2 separate regions of the Homo sapiens genome follow, and region 1 is linked to region 2. The links come from fine-mapping of genetic effects on gene expression. A gene starts in region 2. The other region holds a variant in brackets. All regions are shown on one strand. Distances are between the middles of the regions.

Evidence for each region.
Region 1: its variant is fine-mapped to the expression of CUBN in unexposed skin (GTEx, PIP 0.92).

Annotation. Positions count from the first base shown.
Region 1 is chr10:17,163,296-17,168,680 of GRCh38, forward strand. The region is part of intron 3 of TRDMT1 (tRNA aspartic acid methyltransferase 1); the gene reads right to left. Among named protein-coding and RNA genes, the nearest start is that of TRDMT1, 36 kb to the right of the region's middle. The variant G/A (reference allele first, on the strand shown) is at 3,344.
Region 2 is chr10:17,126,969-17,132,321 of GRCh38, forward strand. It overlaps CUBN (cubilin), which reads right to left and starts at 2,843. Exons shown (of 67, transcript NM_001081.4): 1 at 2,676-2,843; 2 at 2,153-2,282; 3 at 861-956. The coding sequence starts at 2,797.

The DNA.
Region 1 (5,385 bases), 36 kb after region 2:
AATAGAGGATCAAGCAGAAATGAAGACTTGAATTGAGCCTGAGCAGCAGGAACAGAGGACCAGGGTTCAAAAGCATGTGTATAGAGGGAAATTTATAGCACTAAAAGCCCACAAGAGAAAACAGGAAAGATCTAAAATTTACACCCTAACATCACAATTAAAAGAACTAGAGAAGCAAGAGCAAACACATTCAAAAGCTAGGAGAAGGCAAGAAATAACTAAGATCAGAGTAGAACTGAAGGAAATAGAGACACAAAAAACCCTTCAAAAAATCAATGAATCCAGGAGCTGGTTTTTTGAAAAGATCAACAAAATTGATAGACCGCTAGCAAGACTAATAAAGAAGAGAGAAGAATCAAATAGATGCAATAAAAAATGATAAAGGGGATATCACCACCGACCCCACAGAAATACAAACTACCATCACAGAATACTATAAACACCTCTACACAAATAAACTAGAAAATCTAGAAGAAATGGATAAATTCCTCGACACATACACCCTCCCAAGACTAAACCAGGAAGAAGTTGAATCTCTGAATAGACCAACAACAGGCTTTGAAATTGAGGCAATAATTAATAGCTTACCAACCAAAAAAAAGTCCAGGACCAGACAGATTCACAGCCAAATTCTACCAGAGGTACAAAGAGAAGCTGGTACCATTCCTTCTGAAACTATTCCAATCAATAGAAAAAGAGGGAATCCTCCCTAACTCATTTTATAAGGCCAGCATCATCCTGATACCAAAGCCTGGCAGAGACACAACAAAAAAAGAGAATTTTAGACCAATATCCCTGATGAACATCGATGCAAAAATCCACAATAAAATACTGGCAAACCGAATCCAGCAGCACATCAAAAAGCTTATCCACCATGATCAAGTGGGCTTCATCCCTGGGATGCAAGGCTGGTTCAACACAAGCAAATCAATAAATGTAATCCAGCATATAAACAGAACCAACGACAAAAACCACATGATTATCTCAATAAATGCAGAAAAGACCTTTGACAAAACTCAACAACCCTTCATGCTAAAAACTCTCAATAAATTAGGTATTGATGGGACATATCTCAAAATAATAAGAGCTATCTATGACAAACCCACAGCCAATATCATACCGAATGGGCAAAAACTGGAAGCATTCCCTTTGAAAACTGGCACAAGACAGGGATGCCCTCTCTCATCACTTCTATTCAACATAGTGTTGGAAGTTCTGGCCAGGGCAATCAGGCAGGAGAAAGAAATAAAGGGCATTCAGTTAGGAAAAGAGGAAGTCAAATTGTCCCTGTTTGCAGATGACATGATTGTATATCTAGAAAAACCCATCATCTCGGCCCAAAATCTCCTTAAGCTGACAAGCAACTTCAGCAAAGTCTCAGGATACAAAATCAATGTGCAAAAATCACAAGCATTCTTATACACCAATAAAAGACAAACAGAGAGCCAAATCATGAGTGAACTCCCATTCACAATTGCTTCAAAGAGAATAAAATACCTAGGAATCCAACTTACAAGGGATGTGAAGGACCTCTTCAAGAAGATCTACCAATCACTGCTCAATGACATAAAAGAGGATACAAACAAATGGAAGAACATTCCATGCTCAGGGATAGGAAGAATCAATATTGTGAAAATGGCCACATTGCCCAAGGTAATTTATAGATTCAATGCCATCCCCATCAAGCTACCAATGATTTTCTTCACAGAATTGGAAAAAACCAATTTAAAGTTCATATGGAACCAAAAAAGAGCCCACATTGCCAAGTCAATCCTAAGCCAAAAGAACGAAGCTGGAGGCATCACGCTACCTGACTTGAAACTATACTACAAGGCTACAGTAACCAAAACAGCATGGTACTGGTACCAAAACAGAGATATAGATCAATGGAACAGAACAGAGCCCTCAGAAATAATGCCACTTATCTACAACTATCTGATCTTTGACAAACCTGACAAAAACAAGAAATGGGGAAAGGATTCCCTATTTAATAAATGGTGCTGGCAAAACTGGCTAGCCATATGTAGAAAGCTGAAACTGGATCCCTTCCTTACACCTTATACTAAAATTAATTCAAGATGGATTAAAGACTTAAATGTTAGACCTAAAACCATAAAACCCTAGAAGAAAACCTAGGCAATACCATTCAGGACATAGGCATGGGCAAGGACTTTATGTCTAAAACACCAAAAGCAATGGCAACAAAAGCCAAAATTGACAAATGGGATCTAATTAAACTAAAGAGCTTCTGCACAGCAAAAGAAACTACCATCAGAATGAACAGGCAACCTACAGAATGGGAGAAAATTTTTGCAATCTACTCATCTGACAAAGGGCTAATATCCAGAATCTACAATGAACTCAAAACAAATTTACAAGAAAAAAACAAAAAACCCCATCAAAAAGTGAGCAAAGGATATGAACAGACACTTCTCAAAAGAAGACATTTATGCAGCCAAAAGACACATGAAAAAATGCTCATCATCACTGGCCATCAGAGAAATGCAAATCAAAACTACAATGAGATACCATCTCACACCAGTTAGAATGGCAATCATTAAAAACTCAGGAAACAACAGGTGCTGGAGAGGATGTGGAGAAATAGGAACACTTTTACACTGTTGGTGGGACTGTAAACTAGTTCAACCATTGTGGAAGTCAGTGTGGGGATTCCTCAGGGATCTAGAACTAGAAATACCATTTGACCCTGCCATCCCATTACTGGGTATATACCCAAAGGATTATAAATCGTGCTGCTATAAAGACACATGCACACGTATGTTTATTGTGGCACTATTCACAATAGCAAAGACTTGGAACCAACCCAAGTGTCCAACAATGATAGACTAGATTAAGAAAATGTGGCACATATACACCATGGAATACTATGCAGCCATAAAAAGGATGAGTTCATGTCCTTTGTAGGGACATGGATGAAGCTGGAAACCATCATTCTCAGCAAACTATCACAAGGACAAAAAACCAAACACCGCAAGTTCTCACTCATAGGTGGGAATTGAACAATCAGAACACATGGACACAGGACGGGGAACATCACACACCGGGGCCTGTTGTGGGGTGGGGGGAGGGAGGAGGGATAGCATTAGGAGATATACCTAATGTAAATGATGAGTTAATGGGTGCAGCACACCAACATGGCACACGTATACATATGTAACAAACATGCACGTTGTGCACATGTACCCTAAAACTTAAAGTATAATAATAAAAAAAAAGCATGCTATTTATCTTCAGAGTCTTAAATAAGTTAGCTGGCATCATTGGTCAGTTTCCTCATACCTGATGGCAGGACCAAAACCATCAGTGGATCTGAGGTTCAGCT[G/A]TGGGATTAGACTGGATGTGAACAGACTTCTCAGAAATCTTCAGTTCTTATTTGTCCTTTCCTGTCAGACTTTCACATGAGGACTACAGAATCAGTTACTCCTGCCATCAGCAGCTGGAGCTGTGCTAAGACAAGGGGGAGGTGGGAGTAGGAAAGCTACGGGGCCCTCTGCAGTATTACCTGAGGCTTCACAGAGCTGGAGCTGCATTCCGCTGTGTATATCCTGCTCACTGTACTCCACAGGCCACACTCTTGCACGTGCCTAGAGCCACCCTGAGATGGAATGGCCTCTGCCTGCTCTGATATACTCCTAATCTACCTCCAGACACAGTTCAGACATCACCTCTGAAAGAATTCCCTTCTCTTGGTATGCAGCAAGCCCTTTTCTCCTCTGTACTCCTGTGACACTTTCAGCATTCTTTTATTATATAGCTTATAAGATAATTTAAGATAACATTATAAGATAATTATTTGTCAGCCATTCCCATTAGACTATGAGCTCCCAAAGGACAGGAACTACAGCATCAAAAATAATGCCTGGCTTGTAGGTGAACCACAAATCCTTGGGAAATTCATTTCCTAGAGAATTGTTTAAATAAATCCAAATGTAGATGGAAATTTGGCATTAGAATATTCATTCACTGAATTAGACTGGTTATTACATATGATATTCTACTTAAAATCATGGAATATATAAAATGATTAACAAATCTTGGCTCTGACATTCTTTAATTGTATATCCTTGAGAAAGTTAACCTTTCTATGCCCCAGTTTCTCATCTGTAAAATCATTGTAACAGCAATGGCTACCCCATAAGCTTGTTAAATTAAATGACATCCTCTGCATAAGACACAGACACTTAGAGGATTACTACTGCTATTTTCATTTAAAATAATCCAAAATACTCTTATTAAAAATATCTAAATGAAAATCAATTAGTCAAGATTTGGTCGAAGATATAATTTCCTGAAACATATAGCCAAATATATATATACACACATATATATAATTTTTTAAATGAAGAGTTTATAACGTTGCTATGAAAAGTCAGAATTATTCAATGTACATATGAATTTTAAGAAATGTAAAGTTCACAAGTGCATGCTTAACTAGCTTTTAAATTGTACAATTAAGCAATTTAGGACTTGAATATTTATTGTGGAAATTCACTTTGCTTAATCAGTATTAGAAAGATATTCTTGAATGCTCATTAGTTTAAATGAATTAAGGTACTTTGGGCTGGAAATAAACATTGTGTCTTAGGTAAGTATAAAAGAGGTATCCTACAGTCTTGCATATCTACTTTTGACCAAATTAATTTGCTCATCTGGTAGCAACTGCTATTTCCTTTGTGATTAATGCTTAATTATAAATATGAATGGAGGCTGGGCATGGTGGCTCCGTGTATAATCCCAGCACTTTGGGAGGTCGAGGTGGGAGGATAGCTTGAGCCCAGGGCTTTTAGGCCAGCCGTGGCAACATAGTGAGACGCCATCTCTACCAAAAATTTAAAAATTAGCTGGGCATGGAAGTACATACCTTTAGTCCCAGCTACTCAGGAGGCTGAGGCAGGAGGATTGCTTGAACCTGGGAGATTGAGGCTGCAGGGAGCTGTGATCATGCCACTGCACTGCAGCCTGGGTGACAGAGCAAGACCCTGTCCCAATAATTATTATTATTTAAAAATAAATAAATACATACATAAGTAGATAGAAGGATTTATGAAAAAATTTCCGAACTATGAAATGCAGCTAATAAACTTCAGAGTGTCCATGTTTGACACTACAGTATGATCTGATTTAGTAAGTCCTTCAAAAGCACTTTCTCTACACTTGATATGGTTTGGCTGTGTCCCCATCCAAATCTCATCTTGAATTTCCACGTGTTGTGGGACGGACCCGGTGGGAGGTAACGGAATCATGGGGGCAGGTCTCTGCTGTGCTGTTCTTGTGACAGTGAATAAGTCTCATGAGATCAGATGGTTCTATAAAGGGCAGTTTCCCTGCACAACATCTCTCTCTTTACCTGCTGCCCGTGACTTG
Region 2 (5,353 bases):
TTCCTATTCCCTCCTATCACATAGATTTCTGGGGTTTTTTTAAGTTTTTTTTTAAAGTACAACCCACTGATAAGTTGACCGATTGCTTCTCTGTAGGCAGTGACTATGGAAATGTTCATAAATGTCAGTGATGCATCCACTTCCCCAATAAGAAGATTGCTCTCAGAACTTCAGCAAGGCTTCTTTTCTTTCTTTCTTCCTTTCTTTCTTTCTCTCTCTCTCTTTCTTTCACTCTGTCTTTCTTTCTCTCTCTCTCTCTGTCTCTCTCTCTCTTTCTGTCTCTCTCTCTCTCTTTCTTTTTTTTTTTTTTTTTTTCTGGCAAGGTCCCACTCTGTTGCCTGGGCTGGAGCACAGTGGCATGATCATAGCTCACTGCAGTCTCAACCTCCCTGGCTCAAGCCATCCTCCCACTTCAGCCTCCCAAGTAGCTGTGAGTACAGGCTCATGCCACCATGCCCAGCTATTTTTTTTTTTTTTTTTTTTTTTGGTAGAGACGGAGTCTCACTATGTGGCCCAGGCTGGTCTCAAACTCCTAGGCTCAAGCGACCCTCCCTCTGTGGCCTCCCAAACTGCTGGGATTACAGGCAGTTTTTTATATTAATCATCCATTCACTTGCAGTGAGCCACTGCTCCCAGCCCAAGGCCTACTTCTGCAACAAGTGCTTGCACAGCATTTCCTGCCTTCTGTCCATCACTTCTACAGCCTCCATTACAGCTGTGTCATTTAACCAAACAGTGAGTAGTTACATGCTAAATCTCTAAAGAGCACACAAAGTTGGTATATCCCCTACAAAACGGTTACTTATACAATAGAACTAGGGAGAACTCATCGGTTCTTATGACGTAGATGTCAGACTTACCTTGGAATTAAGCTGATAGATTTGACTAGATATATTTTGAGGCAGACCAATTGCACTCCCTTTTAACTCTATAATATCTTCTTTGTTTTTCTGGATCTAATTTTAGAAAAAGAAGAAGAAATGAAGAGCACTAGTGAAAATATCATATTTATCTTTACAGTAACATAATTAAAAACTTGAGTAGTATTCTACTTTAAGCACTAAGATCTTGCCTATTATTATAAAAACCAAAACAACACCATGCGTAATAAACACTGGGCTAAAATAGCCACAGCATAATTCCACTTATCCTTTTCAGTAACAATAGATCAAGGTATTTTCCATTTGTATGTTTTCCTATAATACCAGTTTAGGGTGCTTATTAAGAAACCTGGCTTGGAAGCAGACTGTTTAGGTTTTAAGTCCTGGCTCAGCTATTTATTGCTGTCCTGGGCAAGTTACCTAACTGCTTCAGGGTTTCTTTACCTCTTGTAAAACTAGGGTGACAATAAAGGCCACCTCATAGGACAGCTGTGAAGGTCAAATGAGATAACATCCATACGGTGCTAAGCACAGTGGATGGCCCACAGTAAGCTCTGAATAATGCTGACTTCTAACATTATGACTGAAATATGCAGTGATTATTGGGAAATGAAAACACCCAGTAAGGCAGGAGAATAACTGGCCAATTCTGTTCTGTGGCAAAAGCAAACTGGTCACATGTCCACATATCCTTGGTCCCCTACTTCCTCGCATCCCCTGTGGAGGAGTTTCAGTTCCACCCTCCGTGCCTTCTCTGGACTAGGGTGCATTGTCTGGCACAATGAGCTTCTATCTTTTAGCATACTCCCTCTACCCACTATTAACCCCAGGCCATCGTCCTTTACAAGAACATGTCTGATGCCCAATTATGTTCTCTATGCTAAAGATTCAAGGTACACTAGGAAGGGGGAGGGAGGCTGAAGACAGGTTGATTAATGAATACAATATATAGTTAGATAGAAGAAATAAGACCTAGTGTTTGATAGACCAGTAGGGTGACTATAGTTAACATTAATCTATTGTACATTTCAAAATAACTAGAAGAGAACAATTCATATGTTCTTAGCATGAAGAAAAGGTAAATATTTAAGGTGATGGATATCCCAATTACCCTGATTTGAACTTTACACATTATAGGAATGTATCAAATTATGTATTAATAAAAAATAATAATTAAAAAAGATTCAAGGTACAGATTAATCTAGACTTGTTCAATTAAGTCACCGTATATGGATATACAAAATGACTTCAATATATTTCCAGTGTATTACCTGATGTAAACACTCACTGAGATCTTCATCATTTAATTTAATTTTTCCCAGGGATCCGGTTCTAAACTCAATGTTTTGAGCAGACCCCGTAAGAAACACCAAATTTCCTCTCTCTGTAGCCATTCGAGGCCTATATAATTCAAACGAGAGAATGCATCAGTAATTAGCAAGTACAATTTTTAAACCAAAATAACAAAGTTTCTTACTGAATAACTACAGGCCAAATACATCTTCACTTTTTGATCATCTCAACCCAACTGCCCCTGCTCATCTGCCACTTTTTTCTCTGCACATTTCTCAGAGATACCTCCTGGCAATTGCAAACAGATTATTTGCAAAATGACAGATAATAATTTGTGCATAGGAAAGTAATTTCATACCTCAGTCTAAATGTTTTTCCCTGTTTGCTTCTCAACATAATTTTCCTCAAGAAAAATTGCACCTTTGTTTATCTGGCTATTTGGGAAAACTGGTGAGGAATTAGCCTAGTCCCTGAGCAGGAATGACCCATGTGTTTACTTACTGTTGGAGATTGATGCTTCTTTTTTGTCTCTGCAGCTCAAGTTCTCCAGCTTCGCCATTTACTTCAGCAAATATTAATAAGGTAAGCAAACTCCAAAGAAAAGGTAAAGACATGTTCATCATCAACCTCCCAGGTTGGCAGGTAAGAGTGAGGCCACTCCAACCAACTGAGCATGGGATTTTGGAGAACAGCAAACCAGGCAGGTGTACTTTGAACCATGGAATATCCTGTAACTGTTGAGTTTTTTCTTCTTTGCCCTAGAAGGCTATGTTATTTTTTCTTCCAGAGGGATGTAAATGATCTTAGATCTTCAGTACTCTTCAACTTGTGAGAGGTCAAAATCTACCTTAAGTGATGCGCAACTTAATCATTATCTATTTGACCTTTGAAACAGTAACAAGCAGCTTTGAAAACATCCACTTAAACAATCTTTGCTTAAGAAGTAACTAGGTTTCAACAAAAGTAAACTGGTCATTATCTACACCTTTCTCTGTTCCCCTCCTTCCTCACCTCCCTTGCAGAGGAGTTCCACCTTTACCCAGCGCTAGGAAAACTAGATATCCACATGCAAAAGAAGTTGGAGGCTTACCTCATACCATATGCAAAAATTAACTCAAAAAAGTTCAAAGATCTAAATCTAAGAGCTAAAACTATAAAATTAACTCACAATGGTTCAAAAAATCTGAAACTATAACATAAAACTCAGAAGAATAGGACAAAAATTCATGACCTTGGATTTTGGATTTGGCAATGATTTCTTGAGTATGATACCAAAAGCATGGGCAAAAAAAGAAAAACACACAGACAACCAAAAGATATAAATTGGAATACATCAAAATTAAAAACGTTTGTGCATCAAAAAATACATCAACAGAGTGAAAAAGCAACTCCCAGAATGGAAGAAAATATTTGCAAATCATATATATATGAAAATGGGTTAATATCCAGAATGTACAAAGAATTTGTACTTTTTACTTTTTATCATCCCTGTGGGACCTATGGACGGCTGTGGAATCCATTCCCACTTTCCACACTGCGCTATACACCCTTCCAGCTGGATATATGGTTTGAGGACATGGAGCACTGATGTCCCCACTCACTCTGTGCTGGGACTACAGAAACCACTGAGAGTGATGAAAATATTCTACATTTCGATTGTAAAATCAACTATTGATGCACTCAGACTTTCCATGAGCACACAGACAAAACTGAATTTGAGGGAGAGCTGTAAAAATTTCACTTCTAAGAAAAATCTCTAGGTAATTACCATTGCATTGGTTAATACCCATGCAGGCTCTTTCAGGACAAGCCTGTTTGTGTTTTACTTATTTTGTGTCTTACTTATGTAGGCTCTTTGAGGAGAGGATCATTATGTACCATAGCTTATAATTCTTTACTTATGCCGGGCGCGGTGGCTCACGCCTGTAATCCCAGCACTTTGGGAGGCCGAGGCGGGCGGATCACGAGGTCAGGAGATCGAGAACATCCTGGCTAACGTGGTGAAACCCCGTCTCTACTACAAATACAAAAAATTAGCCGGGCTTAGTGGCGGGCGCCTGTAGTCCCAGCTACTCGGGAGGCTGAGGCAGGAGAATGGCGTGAACCCGGGAGGCGGAGCTTGCAGTGAGCTGAGATCATGCCACTGCACTCCAGCCTGGGGGACAGAGCGAGATGCCGTCTCAAAAACAAAACAAAACAAAAAAAAACTTTACTTGTGATACTCAAATAGTCACTGCTTTTAAAAATTTTTTTTAAACCTTCCCAATTTCTTCTATATGTCTCTTGTATCTGCTTCTTTCACTCAACATAATGCTTTTGTAATTCATCTGTGCTGTAGTGTATATCATTAATTGGTTCCCTTTTATTATTGAGTAGTATTTCATCATATGGCTATCCCACAGTTTGCTTCTCTACTCATCAGTTGATAAACACTTGAGTTATTTCCAGTTTGGGACTATTATAAATAAAGCTGTTATGAACATTTGTGAACAGGTCTTTGTGTCAACATAGGTATCTCATTACAATTTTAATTTATATTTCCCTAATGACCAAAGATGTTGGGCATCTTTTTATGTATATTTGCCATTTGTTTATCTTCTTCGGTGAACTGTCTGTTTAGATATTTTGCCTATTTTTTAAAATTTTGTTGTTTGTCTTTTATTGATTGTAAGAGCTCATATATTCTAGATACAAGAATTTTCAAATACGTATTTTGCAAATATTTTTCTGCCAACCTGTGGCAAGTCATTTTGCTTGCTTAAAAATATTTTTCAAGGACAACAATAAGACACAAAAGACTACTTCCTAAGTGATTCTATATCACATGATTCCATATGAAAATCTAAAAAAGCCAAAACTACACTGATTGATAGACAACAAATCAGAGGCCAGGGGTTGGGGAGGAGATTGATCGCAAGGAGGCATGAGGGAATATTTAAGGGTGATGAAAATGTTCTGTATCATGATTGTGATTGTGGTTGCATGACTGTATAAATTTGTCAAAACTCATAAAGCTGTATAGTTAAAATAGATAATCTTTGGCAGATGTAAATTACAGCACAATAAAACTGATTAAAATTATTTCTCTTCTATATTTGTAAATGTCTTCATATATCAGGATGATACAAAATATTAATTTGGTATTAAACTAAATGCTAAGAAAAGATATCCAATAGCCT